Regions from separate parts of the Homo sapiens genome. Here region 1 is linked to region 2. A link means that fine-mapping ties the variant in region 2 to the expression of a gene that starts in the linked region. Tissue or cell type: tibial nerve. Region 2 holds a variant in brackets; the other region holds the start of a gene. All regions are shown on one strand. Distances are between the middles of the regions.

The links. PIP is the estimated chance that this variant, and not a neighbour inherited with it, causes the effect. A credible set is the group of variants that fine-mapping cannot tell apart.
Region 1: XKR4 starts here. The variant in region 2 is the best candidate, but not a certain one, in a credible set for the expression of XKR4 in tibial nerve (GTEx, PIP 0.80).

Annotation. Positions count from the first base shown.
Region 1 is chr8:55,096,582-55,106,954 of GRCh38, reverse strand. XKR4 (XK related 4) reads right to left here and starts at 4,927. Exons shown (of 3, transcript NM_052898.2): 1 at 3,661-4,927. The coding sequence starts at 4,466. RefSeq lists enhancers at 3,271-3,936, 4,605-5,272 and a silencer at 5,684-5,853.
Region 2 is chr8:54,862,654-54,873,847 of GRCh38, reverse strand. It overlaps a transcript of RP1 not described here. Among named protein-coding and RNA genes, the nearest start is that of XKR4, 230 kb to the left of the region's middle. The variant A/T (reference allele first, on the strand shown) is at 6,829.

The sequences.
Region 1 (10,373 bases), 230 kb before region 2:
TTAACTTTGTTTAATCTGTCATTTTCCCAACTTATTTGAACATGGGACACAATCAGTGCCTTCTGGAATAGCAAGCATGACAAGAGCAGAAAAAACTGCATTTTCCTCACATTTTTCCCAGATGACTCTCATGATGGAGACTCAAAAACAAAACCCAGAAGAGTAAGAATAGTGAAAATGCTCCCCACTCTACCATCCACTGACTCATTATTTACAATGTGCATATTTTCTGGAAAATAATTAACTATGTACATACATACATAGGAGAAATTCAGGTAGAGTTTTAAGAGTAAACTTCATAATTTCTGAAGGAAAAAGACATTTGGAGGCAATTGATCAAAAGCATGAGGACTAAAAACTGTTCTCTTAGGGAATTTGTGATTCCCACTGGCTAAACTGCACTCTTAGTAATTTCTGGAATCATATGAGAAAAATAAGAAAGGAAAGTACTTTCGCATTCATTCACAGGCACAGTTCCTTTAAAGTCATAATTGCTCTTTTCACATGGTAGCAAAAATTCACTTTATTATTTCAAATAGCTCTTTCCCAAGCTCACCTCCTGCGACTTTAAAAGCTGCCATTAATTTCCCATTAGTAAACTTTAATTAAAATGAATATGTATCATTGCTTTTAGCAGTTGCATTGTAACATATGTATAAATACATGCAAATCTTACCCACAATGTTTCAATGGCTATTTCTAAACAAGCAAATGCTTTGATGTTATTTCAAAAGACTGTATTTAGAGAAAGCTTTTAGAATCTGGTCCTTCCCTAAAATAATTAGAATTTCATGGAAACACAAGAAGCAGTTACCAACCTAGCTAAAATCTATTTTATTGATCCCAGAAAGTAGCATGTTAAAACATGAATAATGACCTCTGTGCTTTGAACCACTCAGTACTCTGGTGTTTCTGCAATATTTGTGTATAATGTATTGAAAAGAAAAGCTAGAAGAGGCACAGGGATGCTTCTAATTTAAGGAATCATAGTGAGTCTAATAGAAAAATCTGAGATGAGTTGCACTTCGTCGGCTTATTAGCAAAGATGCGTCTACTCCCCCAAAGTTCCACATGAATGTTCAACACTCAGAGAAATAGAAACATATTAGAGCGCATCTGAGTGTTAAGTTCCATAAGCTTTCTTATCCCTTTCCAACTTCCTACATTAGGCTAAAGTTTTGTTTTTTTGAAAAATATACTTCATAAACAGAAAATGATGCTGATTAGTCTTAGATCACGCTTTCACCAGATTACTCTGGCATCCCCCAAATATTTTAATCAGAATCTGAGAATAGTTAGATTAGATGATAATTCAAACTTATCTACTACACACATTATTCTGAAAATGTTGACAAATATTTCCAGAATATTATATCTGATAATATTTCCAACTACAATATTCCTCCTAGATGATCATGCATTATCAGTATTAACTTTAAAGCCTCTAAGGAAAATACTATAGAAATGCTTAACTAAAAGGAGCCATGTGTGACCACAGTTTCTCCAAGTCTGGGTCAGTTAATACATTTGTCTGACAGCCTGCGGTTTTCTTTCTACATTCAAACCTTACCCTTCCATCCCTTCTCTCCCCGCCCCCACTCCCTACCTCTGAAATAACTTTTCTGTATGATAAGTTGGCCCAGTGGCTATGGTCTCTCTGACATGTTTTTAGGCTCATATCTTTTCCTAATTATTTCTCACATTCTGTATATTATTCCCCTAGAAAATTAAGAATCATTTTTCAATTGGGGAGATGTTTGGTTTAGAAGGTATAGTAAACACAACTATAATTAAAAGGACTTCCTCGGTTCACAGAATTTAATATCAGATTTTTCATAAAGAATCAATCTGTAAAAAAAATTACAGTTTTTCAGTTAACAGGATAGAGAAGTATTTGAATTATTTACATAAGTCTAGAAACTTGAAAGGTGGTTAAAATTAAGTGATTTCCAAATCTTGATAAAGTTTGAAAAAGTTAACAAATGGAATGTTAAGCTTAATTTACCAAATTATCAGATTAGAAATGCTAATCAGATGCATCCTAGCCAGTCAGTAATTTCAGTAAGTAAATTAAGCACTTAAGTCCTTCATCATACTTGAAGAGCATCAAGCTATAAGTCTTCCCAATAGTCATCCATGGGAAATATAGCTATCATATTTAACTAGAATTTCAAAAAGTTACTTTGAGTCCAAAATATGTATGAAGGTTCCAACATCAATTTGTCTGACTACATATCAAATATCACTTTTTCAGAAAGTGTGTGCTTGAAAAAAAATGTTTCACAATCTGGAAGGTCACCATCTATGGCAATGTTCAGTCTGCTTTACAAAGCTCTGGTCCCAGGAAAGGTTGTGAAATCACCACACTTGCTCTTCTCAGGTGAACATATGGTTGTTCATCATAAATAAAAAGAAGTTTGTGGTTCTAGTCCACAAATCCTCTAACTTGTTTCCACAGGTGATACTTCGGCATAGTCAAGAACTCACATCTTTTATCACAAAAATAGCCACAAATAAAATTGAAAAAGAGCACCAGTACCACAGAGTGTAGTCCCATATTGGTGTACTTTCTAGGAATTGTCCTCATTTCGCTTATACCACCTGTTTACTAAGTTATTTTAAAACCAAAAAAGCTCTGACATGTTAGAATCTATAGACTTCCATATAAGTAATTTTTATAGATGTAAAATATTGCTTCGAAATCTGCTAGTAGCATATAAAAGTCAAAAGAATGTATTCCTGAGCATACTATTTCATTCTGCTCCTAAGTCCATGCAGTGACTGTTCAAGTGGTGGTTTCCCTCTGCCCAAGTTTAGCCTTGTATTCCAGTTTATAACTGAAGTGATCCCTGTGTAAAAAGACTTGGTAGATCAGATGACAAGCAGCAAAGTAGCCAACGAAGATACCAAGTACAACTAAAGTTAACATGGTGCCCCACCCCTTTTCCAAAGGCTTGTAATTATATGAGAAATTAGATATGGAGATATTGCAAGATAATCAGAAAGGGCACTCTAAAAGTAAATCTGGGCCCCATAAAGCTTACTGAATCATGCTCGGGGATATATATATATATATATATATATATATATATATATATATATACAAAGTCATTTGCCTATTAGGATCTTTACTTTGAGTAAAGCACTTCTCCAGCAGTGATCATTAATATGTGGGTACTTTTGAGCAGCAGCAACTCCCATTTCACTAGAATTAGCAATTTTTTTTCCCCAGGGAACAAAAGAAACCATCCAAATGGCAACACACACCTCAAATTCAATATAATAATAAAGGAATTTTAGAAGATGTGACAGGAATCCTCTCCTACTCACTGAAACAATATCACTAAAAATGGGGAAGCGGGGAGGGGGGTTGTGGCATGCCAAGAGCAAGAAGCCAGTAAGGCAGAGTGGGAAGACAGAAGGGATGAGGTGATCGAAACCACTTTGCTGTCCTTCCCTTGCTTCTCACTTCCCTCCCACCCTAGACTGAGATTGCAAATTTTAAAAATGCAAGCCCCAGTTCAAAAGAAACCCAAAAAACTGGAAGAGTGTGACTAGGGTTACTACCAAAGCAACCCTGAAAGATTTCCGTGCAAAAGCAAAGCAGTGGGGATGTAGTAGCAGCAGCAAGCCTCCCTTTTCCCCCACCCATTACAGTACCTCCAGATTTGCCCGAGCTGCAAGATGTGGATGAGTGACTGCAGGAGCCAGATGCAGAAGGAGCAGGACGCAGACCTGTGCTTGCCACTGGCCCGGGTAGCCCCGCTGCTGTTGCTGCCGCTGTTGGCCGCGGCGATGTTGCTCTTGCTGGCGTTAGATGCTTGCCTTTGCGGCGTGGAAGGACGAGCCTCGCCTTCCCCGGCTGCAGACCCACCGCCGACCACCGTCTTGCAATCGGCTCCAGGCTGCGGGCAGCTGGAGGCAGCAGCGGCCGTGGCGCTGTCCTCGGTGCTGAAATCGTGCACAAACCAGCGGAAGCTGAACACTTGCACCGACAGAGAGCCGAGCACCACGAAGAAGAGCGTGAGCCCGAACCACCAGCGCTGGCCGCGCAGGTAGTAGTCCACGGCGAGCCAGACGTCTGTGCCCACGTCCGCGAAGTACACGGCCACGGCGGCCAGGATCCAGAGGCAGTCCCACAGTGAGTAGCGCCGCTGCTCCCTGCCCAGGCGCAGGCACAGCGCAGCCGAGCCCGCCCCGCCGCCGCCCGGGCCGGCGACGCCGCCGGAGCCGCCCGAGCCCGCGGAGCCGCCACTCCCGGCGCAGCAGCAGCAGCAGCGCGAGCAGCCGCCGCCGTCCGGGCAGCAGCCGCCCCCGGCCGCCTCCTCGTCCTCGGCTCCCGACCCCGACGGCAAGCCTGGAGCCAATCCCTGCACCGAGCCCGAGTGGTCCGAGTTCTGCAGCGGGGTGAACGCCACGTCGCTGCTTTTCTTCATTTTCAGCCTCCCGTCTGATTTAGCGGCCATGATGCCTCCACACCGGAGGAGAGCCCTCCTTTATCTGACACCTTTCCCCGCTGTCTCCTCCTCCCGCCACCTCCTCGCCTCGCCCCGGCTTCCCTCCCAGGCGGTGCGGCTCCCCCTCCTCCTGCTCCTGCGTCGGCTCGCCTGCCGTCCGCCGCCGCCCGCCGCCCGCCGGGCTGGGCGCTGGGCCGGGCTAGCGGCGCGCCTGGGGCCGGCAGGAGCGCCGCCTGGCTGCCTGCGCGGAGCCAAGCTGCTCGCGGCGCCCCGCGCGCGCCCCTGCCCGCCGCCCGCGCTCCTCGCCGTCCCGGCTTCGCTGCTGCCGCCCGAGCCGCCGCCGCCGCCAGCAGCAGGAGCAGCAGCGGCCGCCGCGGCGCTCCTCGGACCTGCACATTCCTCTCCTCCCCTCGCGCGCGCTCCCTCCTCCCGCTTCCTCTCCTCCACCAGCTGACTCCGAGGGAGAGGATGACCTCATCCCTTCTCTTCCAGCTGCCGTCGCTCCCACCCTGGCTCGGGAGGGGCGAGGGAGGAGGAGGGACCCGGAGGAGGGGCCGGGACCGAGAGGAGCGGCGGGCGGGGGTTGGGGGACTGCCCTGGCGGGTCCCAAGGGCCGGGAGGAGCGGCCAAGGGGGCCTGAGGGTGACAGTCGAAGGCCCCCACTCCCGGGATTTCGGAACGCTGGGTGGATTTGAGCGACACTGGGGGAGGGGGAGGAGCGCGCTGAGAGGAGGGGTCCCTGCGTGCAGCCCTCGCGGAGGACGGCGGAGAGTGGGCACGGACGGGTGTGGCGGCAGCAAGGGCCAGGGAGGAGCAGGCCTCTTTGTATTCCGGTCGGAGCCGCCAGCACCTGGAGAAGGGCTGGGAGCGCGGCTCTGGCCGACGATGGTGGGGAGAATGGGTGTAACTCGGGCGCCCGGGCTCGGAGGCCAGCAGCGGCAGTGGGCGTGCCCGGCCTTGCCAGAGAGTGCAGGGGAGAGAAAGGCGTACGGGGCTCGGAGCGCGGAGCCTGGTGCCGCGCCGGCAGCTGAGGGCGGGCGGGTCCGCTGGGAGCCCCGAGCCAGCGCCCTCGGTGGAGGCAGCCGGCATTCCGAGGGCTCCCGGCTTCTCCGGCGGGCGGGGGTGCCTGAGCTCAGGCAGGTGCGGAGGCGCTCCCGCCCTTCGCGGCCCAGGCCCCTGCCCGACGCCGGGGTCCCTCGCACGTTCTCGGCGGCTGGAAAGCTCTGAGCCGGGAGGAGCGGCAGCCCAGTGGGCACCGCACCGGCCCTCGAGGCGTCCTGCGGCAGGTGGGAAGCGCAGCACCCCTGGCGGCGGCGCGGGGCGCGGCCGGCAGCCGCGGGAAACCGAGTGCCACCCCACCCCCGGCCCGCGGGCGGGGAGTGGCGGAGCCCGGAGCAGGCGCCACCTCCCTTACTCCTTACTCCAAAACTAGAAATACCTTCTCTTAAAGCTATAGGGATTGCAAACTAGCTGTGTGGTCCCACAACTCCAGAAATGACTCGAAAAATTAAATCTGTGATCGGAGTGATTCAAGGAGAATACAAAATATGTTGTGGTTTTAAGAGATTTTTAAAACCTCAATAAAATATAGGATCTTCATTTTTTTAATAAGGAAACTTAAGCTTTGATTTGTCTCACTTAGCTTTTGCAAATGTAAGAAATAGAGAGTGTAATTCTTAAATTATACTGTGACTCACATACTTGGGAGGTAAGTGAGGCAACACGAGTTACACTGCCACTAGGAGCACCAGTTGGATCTTCTAAATCAGGAGGCAAACCATGACACCCCCCACCCACCCCCGCTTCTCTCTGGTAGGCGCCAGGTGAGTTCGAACTAGTACACAGTGCCATTCTTAATGAGTAACATTATGAAATAGAAGTGCACGGATTTCTCTGCACGTGGAAAGAGCCGCCTCACGCATTGTGTGCTACGTATCAAGGGCTGTGTCATCACCAACCTGGATAAAGTGGAATTTGCCCCACGCTCTGGATTCATTGCCTTTTATTCTCACAGACTGGTGCCCAGGACCCTCCCTTGGTTGGCCTTGACCTGACATTTTGGCAGGAGGGTGTTGAGTCATAGAGTCTCTACACGATTACATGGCATGTACAAATCCGGTATTTCTAGCGAAAGGAATAGCCAAGTGATGGCTGAGGGGCAACACAGTCCCACTAAGATGCTTAGTATGCCAGGCAAGCGGGTATATTTTTAAATCCAGCTTTAAAATTGGGTCTTCTTGGAGTAGAAGAATCCTTTTTTGGAAAACACCCTGATTCTATTTCTCCGGAGTCCAAATCTAAGATTCCATCTCCAGGGTGCTACTGCTGATCTTACTCTCTGCCAAACCACTAGGGAGAGAAATGATCTCTTAGGTAACTGGGTCCTAAGGGATGGAGTGTATTCTAGGTCAAATGCAGTGTCTTAAATTACACCAGGCATGAAAAGGCCCTGCAGAGTATCTGAGGTGCTGAAGACCTGGGGCTGACTAAAGGTTCCCCTAAAACAGGATGTTTCTTATTCGACTGTATCCTCTGCACCTGGCACAGCACATGCACAGACTATTTGCTCAATAAATATTAGTTGAGTGAATGCATGAATTTATAGAAAGAACATTCCATGACAGGAAGAATGCTGCATTCTGTGCTAACGAATGTTCCCATGGAAACACAGGAATTATGAAACTTTTTATGTTAGGTTCTAAAAAGAAATAACTAGTAACGGTTTCTTTATCAATACATTTATTCAAAAGTCTCTTTAAGGTTGCTGTCTGAACCATATCTGGAAAGTAATGGTGACGGGTAGTTAGTGGCAGGAGTTTACAAGCAGGAGGTCAGAGGATGAGCTTCACATCCAGGCTTTGCTAATTACTGGCCCCATGACCCTAGCAAATTAATACACAGGATTAATATGAGGATTAGATGAGATCATGTATATTACAGGGCTTTGTATACAATACTGTTCTCAAGAGTCTCTAATCTCATAAGTCTAGTAATCACATTTTAGGATATAGATTTTAATATTAACTGCTCTATCATAATCATTGCACCTGTCAAGGCAGGTGGACATAATGGTTGCAAGTTCAGAGTTTGGACTTATCTTTGTGCATGTTATTTAACTTGCCTGTCCCTCATGCTCATCGTTTGTTAAATAGAGACAATAATGATCTCTAGAATTTGGTCTTGTTGCCAGAAACAAATACTAATACTAATAACAAGGAGGCATGTGAACTGTTTAACGCTGTGTCCAGCACACTCCACACACAACATTCTGTTAATATCTTTCCTGTTTCTTCCAGCCCCCTCATGTCTTCTGGCTTCTAAACTTTTGTGTTTGGCTCTCCATCTCTACTTAAAACTAGAGTTCCTCAAAACACAGTCCTTGGACTACCTGCATCACAATCAGTTGTTGTTTCTTACAGATTCCTGGCCTATCAGAAATGTGATCTCTCCATCAATGATTTTGTCTTCCATCCAATCTGAGAGATTTATTCTCATTGTATAACCCAGGGGTCCCCAATTCCTGGGCCATAAACTGGTATAGGTCAGTGGCCTGTTAGGAACTGGGCCACACAGCAGGAGGTGAGCTGTGGCAGGCAGGGTGAAATTACCACCTGAGCTCCGCCGCCTGTCAGATCCGTGGAGGCGTTAGATTCTCATGGGAGTGCGACCCCTATTGTGAACTGCACATTGAAGGGATCTAGGTTGTGTCCTCCTTGTGCGAATCTAACAAATGCCTGATGATCTGAGGTGGAACAGTTTCATCCCAAAACCATCCCCCCAACAACCCCAGTGGAAAAATTGTCTTCCACAAAACCGGTCCCTACTTCCAAAAGGGTTGGAGACAGCTGGTATAACCTAAACCTTAGCATTACTCAACAGCTTCATAATCTCCACTTTACATACCTCACACTCTGATTAACCCCTCCTAACTCATGAGCTCACTCTCTCCTGTACCCCTGGACCTGTTTTCTACCTCCTTTTCATGTCCCTTAACCCCTTCATGCCCCCCCTTTCTTCTTACACGATGTAAATTCCATGCTCAATCATGATAGGCACCTCTCACACACTTCCTCATCTCTGTTGTCCCTCTTACTCGACAAAACACCAGCCCTGGTTAAACTCTGTTCTCCACCTACATCAGGCCTGACCCTGTGTAACTGGCTGTAGCTGGAGAAGGGGCGTGGCCCTGCACACTGCACTTCTTTCTATCCTGGACCTTTACCCTGAAGTGGACCCAAAGGCTGCTCCACAGTCACACCTCATCTTCCCAGTCCATTTGCATTCCTGCTCTTTTAAATTATGTCTTTTTATATTTTCCTTTCTCAAGCTTTAAACACCTCCTTCCCCATTCTTACTCTCCCCTGATGACTCTGCTTCCTATTTCACTGAGAAAGATGAAGCGACCAGAGCAGAACCCACACAAGCGTTCAGCACCTTCTCTGCCCACCTGCCAGCACGTGTACCACTCAGCCTCCTGCTCTACAAGGCCAACTCCCTTGCTGTTCACCAGCCCCCACCCCTCTTACTGCTCAAGAGCTCAATTCCACACTCATTGCTTCAATTATCAATGTTCCCTCTCTCCTGTACATCAGTGTACAAACACACTCCTATGTATCCACTAGTTAAAAAACAAAGCAAAACAAAACTTTTGATTCCAATTCCCTTTCTAGTCACCACTGCACTTCCCTGAAACCTTTTGCAACAAAGCTCTCTAAAGTTGCCTAAACTTGCTTTCTTCAATTCCTGTTCTTCGATCCTCTCTTGAACACATTCAAATAAACCAACAATTGCTCCACTGGAACTGTTCTTACCAAGTCGCTGGCAGCCTATTGCCACCTTACTGAACATTTCAGTCTCACCTTCCTTGACCCCCTAGTGGCATTTGACATGGTAGAACCTTCTCTTCTCAGTGAAATCTGCTCTTCCCTTGGCTTTCACTATATCACACACTCTGGGGTTTTCCCGTTTTGAAGTCTACTTCTTTGCTAATTCTGGGTCCCTTGCTAATTTCTTCTCATTTCTCCTACCTTTAAGCTGGTTCAGTCTTCATATCTTTCTCTACGTGTATTAGTCCATTCTCACACTGCTATAAGGACATACCTGAGACTGGGTAACTTATAAAGGAAAGAGGTTTAATTGACTCACAGTTCTGCAGGGCTAGGGGGGCCTCAGAAAACTTACAATCATGACAGAAGGAGAAGCAAACATGTCCTTCTTCACATGGCGACAGCAAGGAGAAGTGCTGAGTTAAGCAGGGGAAAAGCCTTTTTTAAAACCATCAGATCTCATGGGAACTCACTCACTATCACAAAAACAGCATGGAGGTAACTGCCCCTGTGATTCAGTTACCTCCCACCAGGTCCCTCCAATGACACATGGGGATTATGGGAACTACAATTCAAGATGAGATTTGGGTGGGGACACAGCCAAACCATATCACTACCTATTCTCACTCTCTTGATACTTTCATAAAATGTCATGTTTAAAATTACACCTATATGCTGGTGACTCCTGTATTTATTTCCCCAGGCTGGAAACCCCCTGGATCCCAGAATACACCCAACTGCTTTCTCAACATCTCTACTTGGATGCCTCTAGGCATCTCAAATTTAAAACATCCAAAACTGAACTCCAGATCTTCCCCCTTCAAAATCTGCTGCTTCTTCCTCATTTCCTTTAATGACAATTTTGTTCTTTAAGTTTCTCAAGCCAAAATAGGGTCGTCATCCTTGACTATATCTTTTTCTTAGACCCCTTGTCTCATCTGCCAGAAAATACTTCAAATTACATTTTTGAAGCCAGGTGTGGTGGCTCACACCTATGATCCTAGAACTTTGGGAGGTCAAGGCAAGAGGATTGCCTGAGGCCAGGAGTTTAAGACTAGCCTAGGCAACATAGTGAGGCCCAGTCAGATGT
Region 2 (11,194 bases):
TTAGGGCTTCACACCCTTTGTGGTAGAGAATCAAGATTAATTTCAGAACCCAGGGATCTTTTTCTAGTATACTCTATCCCACTGCCTGAAAGAATGAAAAGGAACCTCCATTTAGAAAACATTAGCTTACCTGGATGTGGAGGAGGGCCTACTTTGCAGTGTTTGTTTCTTCGCTTCTAAAAATAACTTAAAATATAACTGTTCAAAAGTATTATCAGCCCCGATGACTTGCAGGATAAACCTAACTCTGGTGGGCTTTCTGGAGAGCCTCTCTCCTTATTAAAGAACAATTAGCTTAGCTGTCCAAGACATTATTTTACCCACAGCCACAAAGAAGCTACATCATCCTTTGCTATAACAAACACATAACTTAAATCTGCTTGCGAAGTTTATATGAAAACACTTTAGCACCTGAAGGCCATCCATATCATCATTGCACCATCATGATAACTTGCTGGTTAAAATAGAGGATGCATCCATCAGATAAAAGTGTTCTTTGCTCCATCTTGCTTTTAACCCAGATACAAGCAAACCCATGAAGACACAGGAGTTGTGCTAGGCAATTGTCGTGCTCCATGAAATGGGCCACATTTTGTTTTCTGGTCTTTGTTTTTGCACTTGTCTACCACTCACCAGCATTTTTAAAGGATATGCATGTCAGGTTTATGGATGAGGGTTTTACATCATTCACTCCACAAGAAAAAACAAACGACATGACCAAAATGCCTCTTTTCACCCAACCTTTAAGAATCTATTTGCTGCCTTTGTGCTATGCACTGTCAATAATTTTTTGCTGTCTCTGAAAACCTAGAAATAAATATAGCTTCACTGTTAGTTTTCCAGTTTTCAAGGAATAGCTATTATGTAAGGAGTTTGGACTGAGACAGTCCCAGAATGTGGACAATGTCTAAGAAATGAGCACTATAAGGATAAAATAAACAAGAATCCACATAAAATGGATCCAATTGGTATTTACATCACCTCCCCCCTCAAGAGAAGAATTGTAAATGTTCTGTTGGATAGAATTAGGAAATAGACAACTCCAATCTGAACTGTGGCAGGGTGGGGAGAAAGGGGCAGGATTACGTTTGGAATAAAACTGTATTGTTGCATCAAAGTTTGTAAAAATAGAGGCACTGAGTGTAATTATCTGTGAATACTTATTCTGCACAAATATAAACTGAATTGGGAATCATTTAATATTTCAATCTCTAATAAGGTGTATTGTGTGGTAAGGCAAGAATGATTCATGTATTTAATAGACACAGAGCACTGACTATAAGCAGGCAGTATGCCAAGGACTGAATATACAAAGCTGAGCACAAGATCTCTCTCCTTCCATAGGGCCTGCAAGTTAGCAGAGAGCACCTGGTATGCCAAGAACTGAATATACAAAGCTGAGCACAAGATCTCTCTCCCTCCGCAGGGCCTGAGAGTTTGGAGGGCGCCTCGGCTCTGTTTGCAGAACGCACATTATTCACTCAGGTCCCTGCTAGAACACTGGCCCCTCAGAGGGCAGGGAAAATGACTATGCTGTTTGCCAGTTTATTCCCAGTGTCTGGGAGATGCTTCACAAGCTTCTGCTTAGTAAATGAGTGTGTTTGTTCAGTATCCGCTTTGGGCAGGGCACCATGAAATAAATGTCATCAAGGGCAAGAAGTGATTCTCCAAGCTTCTGTGCAGCCTGGAGTGGTCCCCCTTATCCTTGGGGGATATGTTCCAAAACCCCTGGTGGATATCTGAAACCATGGATAGTATTGTACCCTATTTATATTATGCACAAATTTCTTTTTCTGTCTTTACAATTTAACAGATATTTGTTCTTACTATAAGTCTTAGCAAACTTAGCATTCAACTTATTTTCTTTCCTTATTAAGACAAGGACTTTCACCTTTTCACTTAAAGGAAGCACTTTTCAGCTTCTCTTTGGCATATCCGAATTGCTAGAGTCACTACTCTTGCACTTTGGGGTCATTATTAGGTAAAATAAGGGTGACAAACACAAGTGCTGCAATACTAGGACTAAGTGATTCATGGATACTCGGGACAAAGAGAATATTCACATCCTGGATGGGACAGGGCAGGATGGCATGAGATTACATCACACTGATTAGAATGGCATGCAACTGAAAATGAATGAATTGTTTATTTCTGACATTTTCCATTTAATATTTTCAGACTGTGGTTGACTTCTGGTAACTGAAACCTCAGAAAGCAAAACCACCAATAAGGGAGAACTATTGTACTTATTTTTCTTACCTGTAATATGGTCTGCTGGACACTTTAGAAAAAAAAAAGGCTGTTTTTAACTTCAAATCACTGAAGCCGTATTCTTGATGTATTTTCATCCTCAGATGTAAAAATATACCATTTCTAAGGAATGGATTAGTTCTTGGTCATGGGTTAGTAAAAGGGAAACCATTATAACAACAGCATCTACTTACTGAACATTATTTACTAATAATGATCTGCCAGGCCAGAGTTAAGTTCTACACACACATACACACATGCACACACACACACACACATATACACACACACCGTAATGGTGAAATGTGCCGACTACTAGATATTTATAAAATAATTTTAGGTAGTATATAGACTAACCTAAAATTTTTGTTAGACATAGATTTATTTTAATGTGTTTTAGGAAAAAATGTAATGACATATTAAATCAGTGATTTCATGGATATTTGGAATATGATTTAGGATGAGGCCAAGCTCTCTTCACCTCTAAATACACTGATTTAGACACAGTTCAAGGAAGAAAATATCAAGCATATACTAGTACAGGTACTATTGCAGACGACAAAAATCATGAAGGTGGTATGCAAGATTTGCCTCCTTGGCCCCTCTGCCTGATTTCATGGGATACTAAAAACAAGCAGGGAAGGCAGGAGGGCCAAGGTCACAGTGTGGACGCGCACGGGCTCTGAAGTCAGACTTCTAGGGTCACATCCCGGCTCTCCTGCTTGTTCCACTCTCTAAGCTTGGGCAGGTCACTTGGCTTTTCCATGTGTCGGTTTCCTCATCTGCAAAATGTGGGTGATGATAGCATCTACCTCACGGGGCAAAATAGAGATTCAAAGACAGGTGTCTTTGATATCAAAAGCTACATCCTGACCTCTCCGGGGCTGGCAAATGAGTTTTAGCTTATGTGCCAAATTAACGGATTAGAAGAAGGCACCTGTGGCACCAAGTTGACAAGTATTTGAGGCTTCATGAGAAAAAGTGACCGATGGATGTGAGATATCTGCCCTGCGCTCTGCTGCTCTCTGCCTGCAGGACTCTGTCACCAGCTCGAAGCTCAAACTGCAAGTGGACCCACAGGACGTGCACTGGGAACACACAGTAACCCAATTGGTTGGGTTCTTTCTACATTTTCTTATTGATTTTACCACTAATTCTGAGAGAGACATACCATTGTCTAACAATAAAACTTCCACTTTAAAATTAACATAGGTTGCATAAAAGTGTTTTTCATGCATCAAATGTTATTAGGTACCTCTTCAGTTATTTTCTACAAAGAATACTTATTTAGACATTTCAGTAACCTTAGCAGTAAGTCAGATTTTCTGAAAGAAAAAGGAAAAGAAAGAAGGGAGAGGAGGGAGGGGAAGAGTGGGGAGGAAGGGAAAGAAAAGGTGAAGGAAGAGGAGGGGGAGGAGGTGAGCAGCAGCAGTATGGGTACCCCAGATACCAGGGGCTGATCTTGGTCAGCTGTTGGCGGAGGCTGTCAGTGCATCCTCCCAATTTTGGAAGTTCTCAGAAACAATGAGTGGGTCCAACACAAACTGACCCTCCCCAGGTGTTTGCTCCAGCCCAAGCAAAAGACAAATGCACTATCACAATCAGATCAATAGCCTTTTGAAGCATATTGGAGCGACAGGCCCAAGTGGGCCCTTTCAGGAGATGGTAGACCCAGTCTCTCCTACTGCACTGGGACTACTTTCTGCGAGCAATTCCCGCTGGGTCTTGCCATCATCTTGGTACTCATCTAGCCATCTGCCATGCAAAAAAAAGAAGATAATTAATATGAGAGAGCATTGAAAGGAGGCTCATTAGTTAGAAAGGAAAAAAAAACATATGGAAAGAATTTAAAGAGGCCTTTAGAGAGATCAGAATTTTAAAAAAGGATTTAAGATTTTAAGCCACACCAGATTATTTAGCAGTCCAGCTTCGGCAAGTTTTTTCCTACACTCAAATTGCAAAGTCATATTGGTTCACTCTAAAATTTTGGCTTTTAGAAAAGTCCTCTGGTAACATTACAAATATTCTAACATAGTCAAAATTTCTCACTTGGAGTTTCCTTAGTGGTAGCTGTTATTTTCTCCTGTCATGTGACTGGCAGGTATACACAGTGGCTAAACCCTCAGACTCTAGGACAGCACTCTTCAAGAGAACTAGAATACAAACCATATATGGAAAGAAGTAAAAAGAAGGTAAAATTAATATTTTGAATTTTCATAAATTCAAAAGATTATTATTTCAACATGTAATCAGTATAAAAATTGTATCACATTCTTTTTTATTCTCCACTCTTGAAATCTGGAATGTATCTTATACCTACATTGGAAGAGCCACAGTTCAGTAGACATATGTGGCTTGTGGCTCCCATGTGAGACAGTACAGTTCTAGAGTCAAATATATTTTGATCTGAATCCTGACTCCACCAATTATTAATATATTCAGGCAAAAAATTTACTATCTTTATATTTCAAAGACAATTTCCTTGTCTTTGAAATATAAATATCACAGAGTCTACCTGTAGGCTGGCTGTGGGGATCAAATGAGTATCTGTGTGCAGTTCTGGCTTTACCATGAAGCCTATTCCTTGGAAAGCATTCAGTAAATGCTAGTGATGGATATTCTTCTGATTTTTCTCTACAGCAATACAACAGATGGGTGCAGAAATCTTAGAGGCTCCCACAACACAAAATGTAACCCCTCTATATCTTGGTTATTTTGAAACTCCACAAATAAAGTTATAAATAACCTCCTTCTCGGAGACCTTTTCTTTTCCCATAATTAGAAGGGGACTTGCATTTAAGTACTTGATAATCTATACTGCGGAAGACAGTAAAGCTTATGTCATCTAAATGCTCCAAACACTCCAGAAAGTAGAACTTTCTGACAAAACAATTTTATAGTAAACTTGATATCTTGTGCAGGGAATTCTTCAGTAGAAGATAATTCACAAAATCATAGTTATATCATAGAAACAACAGATTGATAGACACTAAATTAAAACTTTCCAGAGGGCCAAGGAACCAAGAGCCCCTGCTTTCTGACTAATGGGTCTGAGGTGTGCATGCCATTAATCTCATTAGGTCACAGTTTGCCCATCTGTCAAACAAACCATGAAACTAAATGTTATCTATGGTTTCTTCCACTTCTGATGGAATAGCAAGATAATTTTTTAATACTTATTTAACCCTGGGTCCTCAGAGAGAAAAGGCAAGGAAAACAGTTTATATTGCTATAGTTAATGATAACAGTGCAATGATACACCAGTGTGCATATCATTCCATATGATAGTATGATACAATAAACCATCTTAAATATTTTCATCTGCGTCATTTTGTTTCTGTAAGTCCAATTTCTAGGGTTTGTGATTATTCTAAAATGTAGAAATAAGTCACTTTCATGATTTCTACTCCTCTGCATTGCCAGTAAAATTAATTTTGGCTTGGAAGAGAATGTGACCATTATCACCTGCCCTGGATGCCTTTTGACTTTGCTAAATGTGGCACTTCTAGAAAAATAATAATCTTATATTTACTACTTACATTATTTCATTGGTACCATCACATTCAGAGCAATAAACTACACTGTAAAATATTAAACACAGCTTCATATGATACCAAATATCTAGATGTGATATAAAACCAAATGTTGTATATATACTGGCCAATATGGTAGTCACTAACCATCTGTGTCTATTCAGCACTAGAAATGTAGCTAGTACAACCAAGCAACTGAATTTTTATTTGATTTGATTTTATTAATTTAAATTTAATTAGCCATATGTGACTAGTGGCTACCATATTGGACTGTGCAGATACAATATTTAAAAAGTAAAACTTAGTCAATTATTTGAGAGTTCTAAATACTAGACACATGATCTAGAAACAAAGGTGTGTTTTCTCCCTTCATTTGCATGTGTAGTATCATGTCTAAAAATTTCTTTAAAATTGTTTCTGTGACAATAACATTTACCATCATGGAGCCTCTAATAATTGCAGGACACTTTTGTAGGTACTTTATATACATTGTCTGAAATCCTCAAACAACCCTGCAAAATAGGTGTCATTACTGCCATTTTACATAAGAATAAACTGAGGCTCCCAGAGCTAGTAAGTAATGCCATTATAATCCAAATCTGGTGCTAAAAAACTTCAATCTTTGCCCCTTCTATTCCCTATTCACTAAGATTTCTTTCAAAAATAAAAATACAAGGTCTCTTCCTAGAGCTTGAATTTCATAAAATGGCAATAGCTACTACTACATGCACTTTAAATGGAAGTGCATTGAGAAAAGAAACAAACAGATGATCAGAGAAGTGCTACACATTTTGTTCATACAAAATTCAACTCCTTATTAAGTTTCAAAGGAATGACTATTTCCTAGAATCGAAACTATAGTAAGGTAAAATCCAGTCAGTCAACCAATGTGCATCTCTGCATATCTGAAGAGTGTCCCTCACTTTAGGGAATAGTGATGCTGAGCCACCTACTAAATTCAGAGCACACTCAGCTCTCCAGCTTCATGTAGCGTTACATCTCTCCTCCCTTATTGAGCATCAATTGGAAGTTCTTTGAAGACAAG[A/T]ACTCTACTTTTTTATCTCTAAATCTCTAGGATTTGGTATAGTACCTAACACCTAGCAGGCAGGCAATATTTTTTCATAAATAAATGGATGGATAAATTAACATATTAAATGGATGGATAAATTAATATATACAATGCATGAGTTCTCTAGATTCAAGGAACATGCAATCACATAGACATAGCACCTTGACACCCAGGTCTTCACAGCATATATAAGCCTCTCTCATTGCCCTCATGTCGTTAACATTTCCCATGTTCCCATGTGGGGACCATAGGTCCTTGCCGACAGAAACTGGATTGCCTTATTGATGGATCTCCATTATCTATCCCACTTCTTGATATGGTGGGTGGTCAATTACTACTTGCATAATGACTGATCAAATGGATCAACATATTCTGTAGATTGGTTAATAATGGAGGGAACTTAACTACATAATTTCTATGTTTAGTGCATTTTGTTTTAAGGTGCATTTGATATTCTACTTATTATAACTCTATAAAGTAGGTAGAGAAGATTTAATCATTCTCATAAAACTTTGAAACTGAGAATCAGAAGTTTAAGAGATTCACCTATGACCACCCGGCCAAGGAATTACAGTTACCCTTGCCACTTAAGTCTCCTGTTATATTACATCTACGCCACTTTAGTACAATGCATTAGAGTTCACAGTTCACATATATAACATCATTTGAGTTTAAATGATTCAAATGAACTAGGGGAAGCAGGTATTATTGCCATCTTCCATATGAGGACATTGAACCTCAGAGAAGTTAAGAGTGGTACCCAAGTTCACAGTACTAGCAGGGAGCTTAGCATGTGTTTTAGAAACAGAAAGAAGAACCTGTTTTCTAAGTCCTAATCCAATTTCTTTCCATTTCACCATACTTTTTTCAGAAGAGAAAAATGTTAGAGATTACAAAAGAAGAGAGAATTACTAGTGCTGATAAAGGACAGCTTCTTGAGGAGAGAAGGCCTTCAGCTCTGGTTTTCAGGGAGGGAATGATGTTGTCCAACAGCTGGGATGAGGCATGCTGGAGGACACAGGTGGAATAAATTGGACAAAGAGAGCATAATTTTGCATAATAATGCATTAAGAGCATACCTGTTGCATAGAAACAGCACCTCTTCACTGCTGTCTTCATCTTCAGACTTAACAACAATACTCCCAAGAAACCATCCATTACCTGTGTCAGTTGACAAAGGAGATTTATTTAACTCTTTAGCTTAAAAATACCAGCATTGTGATTTTATTCATAGGTCCTCCAAATGTTCCTTTTTAAGTACACATGTCAAGGTACAAAAATATGCACATGCAAATTATGCCCGTAGAGAAATGAAAATGTGAGTGAGCAACCTAATTACTCAGAGTACTAGAAGCAGAGGACAAGAGAAGATAGGGACCCAAACTCTCTATAAAATTAAAAAAAAATTATTTAAAAACACATGAGCCAAGAATAAAGAGAGAAGTAAATTCACATAAATGCATTTCAGTTATGTTAAGTCATAGAAGATTTATAAGTTTAAATAGTAATGGAAAGTCACAATCAATCATCATTCTTAATAGTGAAAATTTAGAAGTTATTGATTACTGTACTTGTCAATACAATTAAAGAAAGAAAAAATGAAAGTAAGGAAAGAAGGGAGAGAGAGAAGGAGGGAAGAAGGGAGGAAGGAGAGGAGGGAAAGAAGAAAGGAAAAGGAAAACTGATAAGTATAGAAAAAAGAGACAGAACTGTCATTATTCACAGAAGATATGACTTAACTTAAAAACCCAAAGAAATCACAGAATATAGAATTAAGAGTGATGAGAAAAATTGTTAGAAATATAATTAATACATAAAAATCCAGTGTATTTCTATTAACCAGAGAGAAAAGGTTAAAAAGCATAATTTAATAAAAGTTACAATGTTGAATTGCTATAAAAATTTAAGAATTTGGGAGTAAATTTAAAATCAGATGTAGTATAATTTATAGAAAAATCATCTAAATGTAGGAAATGACAGCAAAAAAAGCCATAAATAAATGTAGAACTATCTCATATTGGTAAGTAGGAAGATATCATAAAGATGTCAGTTCCTCATAAACTAATTCAAAACCTCAATGTAATTAAATCAAATTCACCAAAGTGTTTTACATGAAAATCCAGAAGCTGGTAATAAAATTCATGTGGATGATAAAGGCCCAAGAATATCACAAGCACTTCTGATCTTGAGTAAGGGAGGGGAATCACCCTACCACTTATCAACATTTATTGTAAATCTATACCAATCAAGGCAATGTGGAATTGGGGCTGGCATAGATAAATTGACTATGGGACAGAAAATGAATTCAGAATTAACCTTTCCCCTTCACACAAACTTGATACAGGCAGCGCTGCTCTGCACATTAGTGTGGAACCATAACAAGAACTGCAAGCTGAAACTATGCAAGCCATCTTAATAATCAACAGGGAAAAATTATGACTGCTTGATGATCTGTAAACATTTTTTCAAAACATCAAAAAATCTTTACTGTGAATTTAAAATGGCTATAAAAAATAAAAAGTAGCAACACTAATATTTAATGCACTATAATTTAAAACATTAGTAACACTGAAAATTAAAATGTTTTATTTTTTCTGTTTGGTGTTTGCCTTCTTTTTCTCATCATATAATTTATAATACAGAGGAAGCATCTTTTGCATCTTAGCAAATTATTAAACTCCTAAATTTGGATCAGCTTACAATATTTTTTTCTTTGTGTTTTCAATGTCATAAAATATCTCAGAATTCCTTTAAGTGAAGTTTTTATCGACACCTTCGTCCTTTTTGTCACCACCACCTTCCTCATCCATGGACATCAATTCCCCTCATTAATTTCCTCTTGCTGCGAATCTACAGTCTCTCAAATGGTGGCAGTGTCAACACTTTCATGGTGGTAAATTATGTCTATAACCCCATTTATTTTAGATTTGAACTTCACTTCCAGCATTGCCACTTTTCATTTCTTTGATACACTTTCATCTTTCAATTATATATTGTTATGAACTGTCACATGGATTCATTATTGGTAAACAAGGAAGCAACACAACTATACACTTTGCTGTCTAGGCATATACTGATAAGAAATGCACCATGACCCAGCACCAACAGACAGACATTGGAAGAAGTGATGTGACTGGTTGCTGATGAGAATGTGCATCTGTTATCCACATAGTGATTTGTAGACTAAAAAGCTGGCAGCAAAGTTTGTACTTATGCAATTGCAGTTACTACAGCATGGTAGCTGAAATTTGAACTATGCTGTTTGGGGATTTGTGTTAAATAAATCATTGCAACTGAAATTTGTGCATATAGATTCCATGCAAAGCAATGACTTCTTGTATAAAATAAAGATGACTTTGTAGAGCTCTCAAGTGAAGACGAAGCAGTCAATACAGAGTGGTAGTACAATTGATGATCCATACGGAAAAGAATGAAAGTTGATTCCATCCTCGTATCATACATAGAAATCAATTACAGATGGAGTAAAATTTTAAATCTTAAAAGCAAGACTTAAAATATATGTATGTGGATGTATAAACTGTAGTCATTAACATCAGGGACACATTCTGAGAAAGGCGTCATTAGGTGATTTCATTATCATGCAAACATTGTGAGCACTTACACAAACCTAGATGGTATCGTCTACTACACACCTAGGTGATATGGCACAGCCTATACTCTTAGGCTATAACCTGTTCAGCGTGTTACTGTACTAAATACTGTAGGCAACTGTCACACAATGGTAAGTATATGTGTTTCTAAACATAGAAAAGGTAATGTGTTTCACTGCAATATTGCAAAGGCAGTGATGTTACTAGGTGATAGGAATTTTTCAACTCCATGATAATCTTATGGGACTACCATCATATATGTGGTCCACGTTAACTGAAACATGGTTATGCAGCACATGATTCTGCATATATATATATATATATATATATATATATATATCCATTTGGAATACTCTGGGGGTAGAGAAGACTTTCTTAAATAAGACACAAAATATGCTGATAATTTAAAAATTATACTATACTCTTAAACTACTTTAAAATTAAGAATTTCAGCCATTAAAAATAACACTAACTAGAGAAGATACAGTGCCAGTCACTGCTAGTTGCTCTCCCTTTCTTGGCATTTCTGCAATGCGAGAGGCCCACATCTCCCAGATGTCTCTGCAGCCACAGATGAACTATGTGACTAGTTTCTCAGGAATGAAATGTGGCCGGAAGTCATATGCGCAGCTGCCATCTTCCATGCTCAAAAGACAGTGTTGCAGGGGACTTTCCGTCTTTCATGTGCTGTAACCAGCTCTGACCACACAGAGGAGAGGAGATTTAGGTGA